Regions from separate parts of the Homo sapiens genome. Here region 2 is linked to region 1. The links come from fine-mapping of genetic effects on gene expression. Tissue or cell type: tibial artery. Region 1 holds a variant in brackets; the other region holds the start of a gene. All regions are shown on one strand. Distances are between the middles of the regions.

What was found. PIP is the estimated chance that this variant, and not a neighbour inherited with it, causes the effect.
Region 2: CCDC127 starts here. The variant in region 1 is fine-mapped to the expression of CCDC127 in tibial artery (GTEx, PIP above 0.99). The same link has a PIP of 0.9 or more in lung, pancreas, spleen, thyroid and transverse colon.

Annotation. Positions count from the first base shown.
Region 1 is chr5:315,370-320,632 of GRCh38, reverse strand. All of the region lies in intron 3 of PDCD6-AHRR (PDCD6-AHRR readthrough (NMD candidate)), which reads right to left. Among named protein-coding and RNA genes, the nearest start is that of AHRR, 3.7 kb to the left of the region's middle. RefSeq lists an enhancer at 1,817-2,116. The variant C/A (reference allele first, on the strand shown) is at 3,120.
Region 2 is chr5:216,038-221,163 of GRCh38, reverse strand. CCDC127 (coiled-coil domain containing 127) reads left to right here and starts at 3,011. Exons shown (of 3, transcript NM_145265.3): 1 at 3,011-3,071; 2 at 4,305-4,435. The coding sequence starts at 4,315. SDHA (succinate dehydrogenase complex flavoprotein subunit A) reads right to left here and starts at 2,844. Exons shown (of 15, transcript NM_004168.4): 1 at 2,746-2,844. The coding sequence starts at 2,808. RefSeq lists silencers at 2,234-2,473, 2,704-3,033 and an enhancer at 2,026-2,834.

The DNA.
Region 1 (5,263 bases):
AACCCGCCCCGCGCCTCCTGCTGTTCTCTGAATAAGGCGTGCGGGCCTTGGGGCCTTTGCACTCGCTGTCTGCTGTCGGCTCAGGAAAAGTCTCTTTTCCAGACACAGCTCCCAAGGTGGGGTGGGCGCAGCTGAGAAGCCCACCCTGCCCCCAAGTGGCCACCGCCCCTCCCCGGGTGTAGCTCCTGCAGGGCAGCCCAGAATTGCTGAGTTCTGCCGCTCTGTCCCCAGGGGTCACCAAGTCGGCTCTGCTCACCTCTGGTTCCTGTCGAATAGCAGAGGCTCAAAAATGTGAGCTGAGTAAATGGGCTTTTTTGGGACAGAGTCTTGCTTTGTCACCCAGGCCTGAGAGCAGTGGTGCGATCTCAGTTCACTGCAGCCTCTGCCTCCAGGGCTCAAGCGATTCTCGTGCCTCAGCCTCCCAAGTAGCTGGGATTACAGTCGCGCGCCACCACACCTGGCTAATTTTTTTTTTTTTTTAAGTAGATAGTGGTTTTGCCATCTTGGCCAGGCTGGTCTCGAACTCCTGACCTCAGGTGATCCACCCACCTCGGCTTGCCAAAGTGTTGGGATTACAGGCATGAGCCACTATGCCACTGAGACAGCCAGGAGCCCTGGGTGCACACATTTATTTTTTGATATGGAACAATGTGCAACTATATTGCTGTATTTTTAAAAATCATTAGTTTTATCTTGATCCAATTTTTGTAAAGTGAATTATGCACAGAAAATGTGTAGCTGGATAACTCTGAGGTAACAGGTGAACTTTAATTTCTTTTTACTTTTTGAAAAGTCTACAATTCCTGTAAATTTTTGCAAGAAGCACATAGTACCTTTGTGATCTGTTAAAATAAGAACCTGTGGGTAGAATGTGATGGTGGTGAGCCGCAGTCCCCCTGCATGGGAAGACAGCACCCCCATGTCTCAGGGCAAGCACGGGTTCCCTTCCACCTACCCTGTCCCACCAGAACCAACTGGAATGAGACACTTTGTTACTCTATTTCCTGGGTACAGAAGGAAACTGCTCCTCCTTCCTTCCCACTGCCCTTGACCGGCACAGGCCATCCACGCCCACCTGTCCCCTGTGCTTGTCCCCAAAGTCTCAGGTCTCTGCAGGACCTGGGGCAGCCAGTGGGACTGTGCAGAAAAAGGATGACCCTGCCGTGGGAGCCACTGCCCCTAAAGTCTCAGGGTTTAGCAGGCAGAGCCCCACGTGGAGTCCTGGAGTCTCTGGGCACCCCACCAGCACAATGGGGGATCCCTGAGCCACCTCCCGTTCAGACGGGCTATTGGGCGTGCCTCCCTCCCCACCACGAAGGTCCAGATGCAGCTGACACCCCCAGTCACAGAGTCTCCTTTCTGCCTCTGTGCTGGGGACCCTGTTCAGGAGGTCTCCTCCCTCCAGTCCGGACTTGCTGTCCCCAGTGTCATTGAACCCTCTGGCTCCCACCCACACTCCCAGCAGCTGGAGACACACCCCTTTCTCCTGGGCCACTGGTCCTCTCGGGACTCTGAACCAGAGGCGCTAACACCTGGCAGGGATGGCAGCTGGGGCAGGACTGGAAGCCTCCGAGGACCCACCCCCAGCTCCGGGTACCCCCACACTGGAGTCTGGTGCGGTGGGTCCCCAGAGCCATATGAGCTGGACTTGGCCTCCAGTGGACCGCCACATGGCAGGTGCCCACGGCCGGCTGCAGCGCCAGGCCCCTCCCAAACAGGCCCAAGTTGGCTTCACAGAAGTGTGGGGGCAAAGCTGCTCTTCATGGGCCTCCAGGAGTGGTGACTGTGACTGCCCCCTCCTGTCCTCTCCTGGCCACACCTTTGCCTCCCACAGGCAGGCCAGGTCAGGAGCCCCCAGGGCCCTGACCTCAGAGGCAGACAGGGGTGTGCTGACCCCTCGGGCCAGGCCAGGACCCCGCACAGGCGCCTGCGGCTCTCTGGCTCTCTGATGGCGGCTGGGTTTCCCGGGTTCCCCGGGTTCCCCATGACTGCTGTGTCTCCAGCGTTGATGCCTCACAGGGAGCCGCTTGGGCAGCCCTGGTCACGCCTGGGTTCCCTCTCTCTCCCACACCAGTTTCTCCCTGGTCACGCCTGGGTTCCCTCTCCCACACCAGTTTCTCCTGTAGCACAGAGAAGGACCTGGGGAATTTTGTCTTTTGTTAAAAACCACAAGGGAGCTCCCTGCTGGGCACAGTCACGGTGGCGCCCGTCAGAGCTGCTTCCAGGGTGCATTCCATCATTCCAAGTTCACTGTGCTGGAGTCAGCTCTCTGCTTGCCGCAGGGTGAGGGGGGGAGGTGGAGGGTGAGGGGGGAGGTGAAGGATTGGGGGAGGTGCAGGGTTGGGGGGAGATGCAGGGTGGGGGGAGGTAAAGGATGGGGGGAGGTGCAGGGTTGGGGGGAGATGCAGGGTGGGGGGAAATAAAGGATGGGGGGAGGTGCAGGGTTGGGGGGAGATGCAGGGTGGGAGGGAGGTAAAAGATGGGGAGAGGTGCAGGGTAAGGGTGGGAGGTGCAGGGTGCGGGGGGGAGGTGGAGGGTGAGGGGGGAGATGAAGGGAGGGGGGAGGTGAAGGATTGGGGGAGGGAAAGGATGGGGGGAGGTGCCAGGTGAGGAGGGAGGTGAAGGATGTGGGGAGGTGCAGGGTTGGGGGGAGATGCAGGGTTGGGAGTAGGTGGAGGGTGAAGGGGGGAGGTACAGGATGGGGGGAGGTGCAGGGTGAGGGGCAGGTGCAAGGTGAGAGGGGAGTTGAAGGGTTGTTGGGGGAGGTGCAGGGTTGTGGCGGGGAGGTGCAGGGTGGCTGTTGGGGGAGGTGCAGGGTTGTCCGGGGAGGTGTAGGGTTGTGGGGGGAGATCAGGGTAGGGAGGGTGGGGAGGCATGGGCCAGGGGCCCCAGGTGAGGGTGTACGGCGTGCACCTGCACCTCCATGTCTGCACTGATGACTGAGGACCCAGAGCGGGGGGAAGGAGAGGCCCCCAGAGATGGCTGTGCCCCCATGTCCTGCTGTCTTGGGTCTTGGGACCGGGGTCGTGACGCTGAGGGTCCCTGGTGGGTGGTCGTGGCCGCTGGCCTGGCCTGGCCTCCGCGACCCAGCCTCACCACACTGGGCCTGCGCCAGGCAC[C/A]TGGTCAGCTGTCCACCCCCTCCACCCCCAAACCCAGGCTCTGAAGGGTCACAGGGCACAGCCTGCCTGACAAGGGAGAGCTGAAAGGGCGAAGGCCCGTCTCTCTGTAGTCTTCTCTCTGCGGCTATAAATCCCATGGCTGTGTCGGGCAGGTCCTCCCGGTCAGTCAGCAGCTCCCGAGAGCTCCGTGGTGCAGCCGCACTGCCCCCACGTGGCCCAGGCTGTGTGCAGCTGCCTGGCCCTTGGGGCCTCAGAGTGCAGTGAGGTTTAGCTCAGGGGCTTCCCTCACCCAGGAAGGCGTGGGTGGCCTCCCTGCAGGCGCCTGAGGATGGGGTCTGTGCTGGCAGTGTGGCTGGGCAGGGGGCACGGCAGCCCTGCTTCCCTGCGGGTTGGCACCCCCTCCACAAGGAATCCACCACAACTCGTGAGCTCACTGCCCTCCAGGGACCCCCAGTTTTGTATCAGTGACTCCGGCCAGGAGAGCAGGGGAGTCCCCCCTCCACACCTTCTGCTTCGAGAGGCTCCTCACCGCCTCCCTCCCTTGACTTCTGATGGCTGGGAGCTCCCCGGGGAAATGTCCCTCCCAACAGCCACAGCCCACCAGCCCAACAGGCTCTCTGCATCCAGGGGTTCCTTTGCCAGCAGGCCGGCCTGACATGCGTTTGTCCAGCGCTCTACCCCTGCTGGTCCTCCAAGCGTGTGGTGCAGCGGCCCCACCGCCCTCCTCACCCTCTGCTGAAGAACTTCTGCTCTGGAATTTTCAGCGGCTTTTGTTCTTGTGAGTCTTCATGGAGGCCCCTCTCCAAGGCAGCCTCCCCGAGCTGCCTGCAAACAGGAGCCCCCATGGCAGCCACGTGCAGAGTACCTGAGGGTACCTGCACCACACACCTGAGTGTACCTCACACCTGTGAACCTGCCACACCTGAGCATACCAGAGACCTGAGAAACACACTTTATCTCCATCAGAGGAACCTCTCATTGCTGTGAAAAGGAAGGAAGGAAAATCATCCACAATCTGACCTTTTCTCTATGAAAGTCTCCGTCTCACCTGGCCTTCGCCTGCTTTCTAGGAGTATGGAGCTAACCGCCACACACAACATTCCTTCCCCGGCAGCTGATCCACAGGATGAGCACATCGGCCTTGGTATCAACTGTTGGCCCGTATCATCCATGGAGACATGTGCTGGGGGCAGGTGTCTCACCAGGGCTGACAGCTCCTCCAGAGTAGCAGGCTTCCCTGACCCAGGTAGGAATCCAGAGGCCAGAGAAGCTGCAGGTGTGGGGTGGGGGTTGCCCACTGCACAGGGGACAGCACGGGCAAGGGCCTGGAGACGTGGCTGGGAGGGCTGCAGGGTGGCCGCAGCAGCTGCCCTCACCCCAAGCACAGAGACCTCACAGGCCTAAGGCTGAAGGAGGAGTGAGGGCAGCTCCCAGGGTGGGGTGGGTGCAGCTACTGGACACTGAGTCCAGGTGCCCATGAGGCGAGGGAGAAGTCGCTGGGCGCCTGGCCGTGGAGGCCTGGGTGAGGAAGGCCTCATGGAATTGGGAGCTTGCGGCCTGGACAAGGAAGTTGACCTCATGGAGTAGAACTTGGGGTCATCTGCTGCAGAGTCATGGGGGTGTCAAGGTCTAGGGAGGCACCCGGCGTGGATTGCTGGGGATCCTCAGAGACTGCCCTGGGATCCCCATGACTGAGGTCATGAGGGAGCAGCCAGACCCCCAAGCCCACATCCCTCCCCCTCCCATCCCCAGGGAGCCTGGAGTGCCTGCTCCAGAGGGATTCGTATCCAGAGGGCCCCAGGCCAAGTGCAGTTGGGCAGTGGGGGAGGTCTCATCTGGAGCACAGAAGCAGCCCCAGTCCCCACCCCCCACAGCACACCTGCCCAGCTTAAGAGACTGGGGGCTTTTTCCAGGAAACCATGCTCCCTGCCCCTCACCCCTCAACACACCGAGCAGAGGTTTGAACAGATCCCAAGAGACCAAAACGAACAGAGAAAAGTCGTGCACAACTGGGTGGAAGGAGCAGGCTTTCTGAGACCAGAGGCTGCAGCCCCAAAACCAGACGCATCACTGTGGAAGGGAAGCGTCTGGAGAATGAGGCTGGGCCTCGGGAGTGTCAACCCAGGAGGGCCGGCGCTGCACAG
Region 2 (5,126 bases), 99 kb after region 1:
AGAATTTTAGTGTTTATTATTTTAAAAACAGGGATACTTAAAATACAGTTCGGCCGGGCGTGGTGGCTCACACCTGTAATCCCAGCCCTTTGGGAGACCGAGGCGGGCGGATCACGAGGTCAGGAGATGGAGACCATTCTGGCTAACATGGTGAAACCCCGTCTCTACTAAAAACACAAAAAAATTAGCCGGGCATGATGGCAGGTGCCTGTAGTCCCAGCTACTCAGGAGGCTGAGGCAGGAGAATGGCGTGAACTCGGGAGGCAGAGCTTGCAGTGAGCCGAGATTGCGCCACTGCACTCCAGCCTGGGTGACAGAGTGAGACTCTGTCTCAAAAAAAAAAAAAAATTCAGTTCACACATGGTTACTGTGCATAGGCTGTGAGCCCTGGTTCTCAAGAGCATCACCAAAGGTTTCAAACATTACCCACAGAATCCTCACTAACCCCACGGAAAGACGGAGCTCAGAGAGGATTCAAGTCGGCCGGCCTGGCTCTGGATCCTGGACTTGCCCCCCTATCTAAAGACCCTTGGGAAAAATCTCTGAGACTCCCAACTAATATTAATATCCAGGTTTCATATCAAAAAACAAGTCACAATTTTTCAAATAAATCAGGAAAAACATCATGAGGAATGCAGAATGGAATGCCATTGTTGTTACAATTATCCCAAGAAGCAAAGCAAAGGTTTACTACTATAATGGCCTAAATAATGTATTTCTAGAACACCATTAAACATATTCAGAACAATCCATTCAAAGAAAAGAAATCAATTTGTCCTAGAACAATATATTGGATGTTCATGTTAAGGGATTTGAAAAACTTCACCTGAAGTAAGCAGTTAACCAGTAACTATTGAAGTTTCTTGGTTTTCTTTTTCCTCTGATTAAACTGCTTTCGAACAGTTTGCAAGCTGTGTCAGTGCACTGGGCCATAAAAAGAAACCAAAAGCAAAATAAGTCTGATAAGTTCGTCACTTGAAAGCAGTTGTAAATACAGAATGATCAAAACACCACAGAACTGGCCAAAATGAGGTTAAAAAATTCTCTCTGGACTTTACTGAAATTATCCTCAGCATCTATTTTCCAAACACATTTCTCAGTTGGCTATCACGAATTTCTTTCTTTTTTCTGCTAATTTTTTGATTATGCTGTTCCTTCGTAAACTCCAATTCTTCAGGAAAAAAAGCCTATCTGAAATGCCGATAAATATGCTGCTTGCAGGCAGAATTTCTGTAGGAAAAGCTAACTTCATCAAGATAAAAAGACTTTTACAAAACCCAAGACTAAATTTTGGTTCAATTTTGCTATCTTGCCATCCCGTCTGAGGTGCCTCCGCCGCTGGCAGGGTCTTAGTCTGCAGAAGGAACACCGGGCACCATCTGGGTTGAGGACAAAGGCACTAGCTCTAGCTTTTCTCCAATCACAAGCTACCATTTCCCCTAAAAAGCCCCACTGACCATGGGCTTTCCTTCCTGCTTGTGGACGCCCTCCTAGCAGCTCTTAAAAGCCCAAGATGCGGCAGGGGTCTCTGCTCAGTCAGTACCAACCACAGCAACACACTAGAACGGTTTACACGCTTTCTGATGTTGGCAGGATGGCTGTATGACTAATCCTCACATTTAACTCAACGAGATTTTTAATAAGTATTTCAAAAAGGAGAAAATTGCACAATTACAGGCATAATTCAAATCAATATTGCTGAATGCCTTGGTTCCTATTGAGATTTTTATTCTGCAATTTAAAATTACTTTGTAATTAAGGAGGTGGGTGGGTAAGTTCATTTAAAAGAACCAAACAACTAAACCTATCCAATTTAGCTTGATTAAATAAAACCCTAGAAGGCCGATTCTTAAGATGCAATCGTAGAGGGCACATTCAGACACTCAGAGAGCAAGGGCTCAGGGAAGTATAACCCTGACCACCATCCTGGACTAAGCCGAGCCCGGCCCTAGAGGCACTCAGCGCACAGGCAAGCACAGGTCCCGGCGTCCTCGCCCGGTCAGTGCGCTGAGCTCTCCGCCTGAGTTTTAAAAACTGGCACAGCTGCTTTTAAACACTGGCACATTTTTGGTGGCATAAGGACCACCAAACACGACCCAAAGTAGAAGCCCTTAACTTACAAGGTCTCGAAGTGGACATGGACAGATTTGCGCTTTCTGGAAAGGCGAACTGCAAGCCTAAGCTCGGGCGCGCCACGCTTCCCACCGGACGCCCACCGGGCCGAGCCCGGCCACTCCTCGCACCCACCCGGGCGGTCTCACCCGCCCCGCCGGCCCCACCCACGGGCTGCGGGCTGCTCCTCAGGACAACCCGCACAGAGGGCGGCAGAGGCCCAGCCCAGCCAGGGCGGCCACCGGCCGCTATCCGCCCGGGTGACCTTGGGCAGACACGACTCCTCCCCGAGTCCACCTGCCAGGCACTGAGGCGAGGGGCTACCTCAGCCCGCGGGGTCCCAGGACCCCAGGCCCGGACCAAGGCGGCGGAGGGGACGCCCAGCAAGCCCGCGGGGTTGTGACCTTCACCCGGACGCGGACTATCTACTAAGGACCGAGCTCCCCGGGTCCCCGAGTCCGCCCCGCGGCTTCCCCTCGCACCGGCCCAGGGCTCTCTCAGCCCCTTCCCGATCCCGGGACAGAGGGCGCAGGGACCCGGCGCCCGCTCCGCTCGGACCCGCTGGGGACCGTCCCGCTCCTACCGCCGCCTCGGCCCCCGCCTGCCCCGCCCCGGTCCGCGGCACGGACTCACCGCCTTGGCCAGCGCCAGGCGCCGAGCGCTCAGCAGCCGCGACAGGCCCCGGACCCCCGACATGTCTGCTGTTGCCGCCGCGCAGTCCCGCCAGTCCCTGCGCAGACTGCGCCTGCGCACCACACCGGGGTCGAGCTGGCGGGGGAGGGGGGATACCGCGCCTGCGCACCACGCCGGAGTCGAGCGGGGCTGCAGTGGGGGACATCGCGCCTGCGCACCATGCCACGCCCGGAGCGGGTACTGAGTGGGGGCGCCGCGCCTGCGCAAAGCGGACCCGCGGACGGTGGCGTTAAGGGAACGCTGAGGTCCCGCGCTCCCCGACCGAGGTAGAGCGGGCCCTGTTCCGGGGAGGTGGTGGGCACCAACATTTTTAAAGCCCCGTGGGTGGTTCTCCGGGATCGCCCAGACCGAAGGGCCTGAACGCCCAGACCGCAGGGAATGGGGTCGGAGGGGGGCGCTCGTCCGCGGAGGTGGGCGGGAGCGGCCCGGGGCCTCCGACCTCTTGTTTATTATACATCCCTTGATTAACTAAACTATTTTGTAATTGTGTGTGTTTGTGGAGGTCACATGTAAACAAACTTAAAGTGACTCTACTTTGTGAAAATGTGAAACTTCGTGTAGGTACTCAGTAAATCAGTAAATTCTTACTAACGTTAGCCCCCAGCCTAGCTATGGAGGGTGCATGCTGAGCCCGAAGCAGAGAACTCTGTAATCTCTGCATTCATCACCACCACGAGGAGGCCTCAGAAGCTTCTAGCACTGTTTGCACCTTCCCCACATCACCCCTCCCTGCCTTCCTCACAGTCTTCCTTCTGATCAGAAGACCCTTTCCTTCTTTCTCTGCCTGTCAAAATGCTGCTCACTCTTCAAACCCTAGCTCATATGAAAGTGTCCGGTGTGAGCCCACTTTTATCGAGTTGATTCTGTATCTTTGATACAACTGTATGAGGGTTCTCCAGAGACACAACAAATAGAAGGGAGACGTGAGGAATTGGTTTAAAGGTTCAATTGCTAATCTCATCCAAAAACACCCTTACAGACACGCCCAGAAATAATGCTTAACCATGTATCTGAGCACCTCATGATGCCGTCAAGTTGACAAACAAAATTAACCATCGCAGCAGCCATACATTTAAACATATTTGTACCAGAGAACTTACCTGATTCTACCTGCACTTCAGATGCTTAAGACATGTCTGTTTTCTCCACTTTCCCCAACCAGATTGTGAGTCGCTTTCATCTTAAGTTCTTGTTTTTTTTTTCCTTTTTCTTTTTCTTTTTTTTTGGGGGGGACGGAGTCTCGTTCTGTCACCAGGCTGGAGTGCAGTGGCGCGACCTCGACTCACTGCAACCTCCACCTCCCAGGTTCAAGCGATTCTCCTGCCTCAGCCTCCCGAGTAGCTGGGACTACAGGTGCCCGCCACCATGCCCGGCTCTGGTCTAGTTTTTTTCTTCTTTGAATCCCGTAGGGCCTCAGTGCTGTGCAGCAAGCACATAGTTAAAACTGAAGAAAAATTTCTTGAATAAAAGTAGTTAACGTTTTTATTCTTTACTTCAAGGTATATCTCCATGAATAACCTAAATGATCCCCCAAATTGGAATATCCGGCCTAATTCCAGGGCGGATGGTGGTGATGGAAGCAGGTGGAATTATGCCCTGTTGGTTCCAATGCTGGGATTGGCTGCTTTTCGTAAGTCATGGTTTTCTTAAAATTCGTGTTTTCCAGGCTGAGAGTGTGGAGCCCCGGTGAGGGAGGCAGCATGGTGTGGGAGCCTGAAGGCCGTGACTTTGGGACCTGCCAGGGACAGCCGAGTTTTATCCCCTGCAGTGAACCGTGGGCAAATCACTTAAGCTCTGAGCCTCAGTCTTCCTGTTCACAGGAGATGGATAATCATACTTAACCTCAGCACACTGCAAGGATTAAGTCAGCCAAGGCGTTTAGAAGCATTTTGTGTGGGGTGGGTTTTAATAACTTAGTTCCCTCTGAAGGCTTTGCTGCTCTCAAGTCGGGGAGGAGGTTCCTTATTTCAGGTGCCCTCATAAGGACTGCTGGGGAACAAAACGGGTGTAAAGGAAACCAGTGGGCTGGGCGTGGTGGCTCATACCTGTAACCCCAGCACTCTGCGAGGCCCAGGTGGGCAGATCGAGTGACCAGCCTGAGCAACACAGCAAAACCCCGTCTCTACAAAAAAATACAAAAATTAGCAAGTCGTGACGGTGCACACCTGTAGTCCCAGCTACTCAGGAGGCTGAGGTGGGAAGATCAGTGGAGCCTGGGAGGTCGAGGCTGCAGTGAGTGGAGATGGCACCACTTGCCCTCCAGCCCGAGCAACAGGGTTAAAAAAAAAAAAAAAGAAAACCAGTTTTGGAAAACCAGTGAT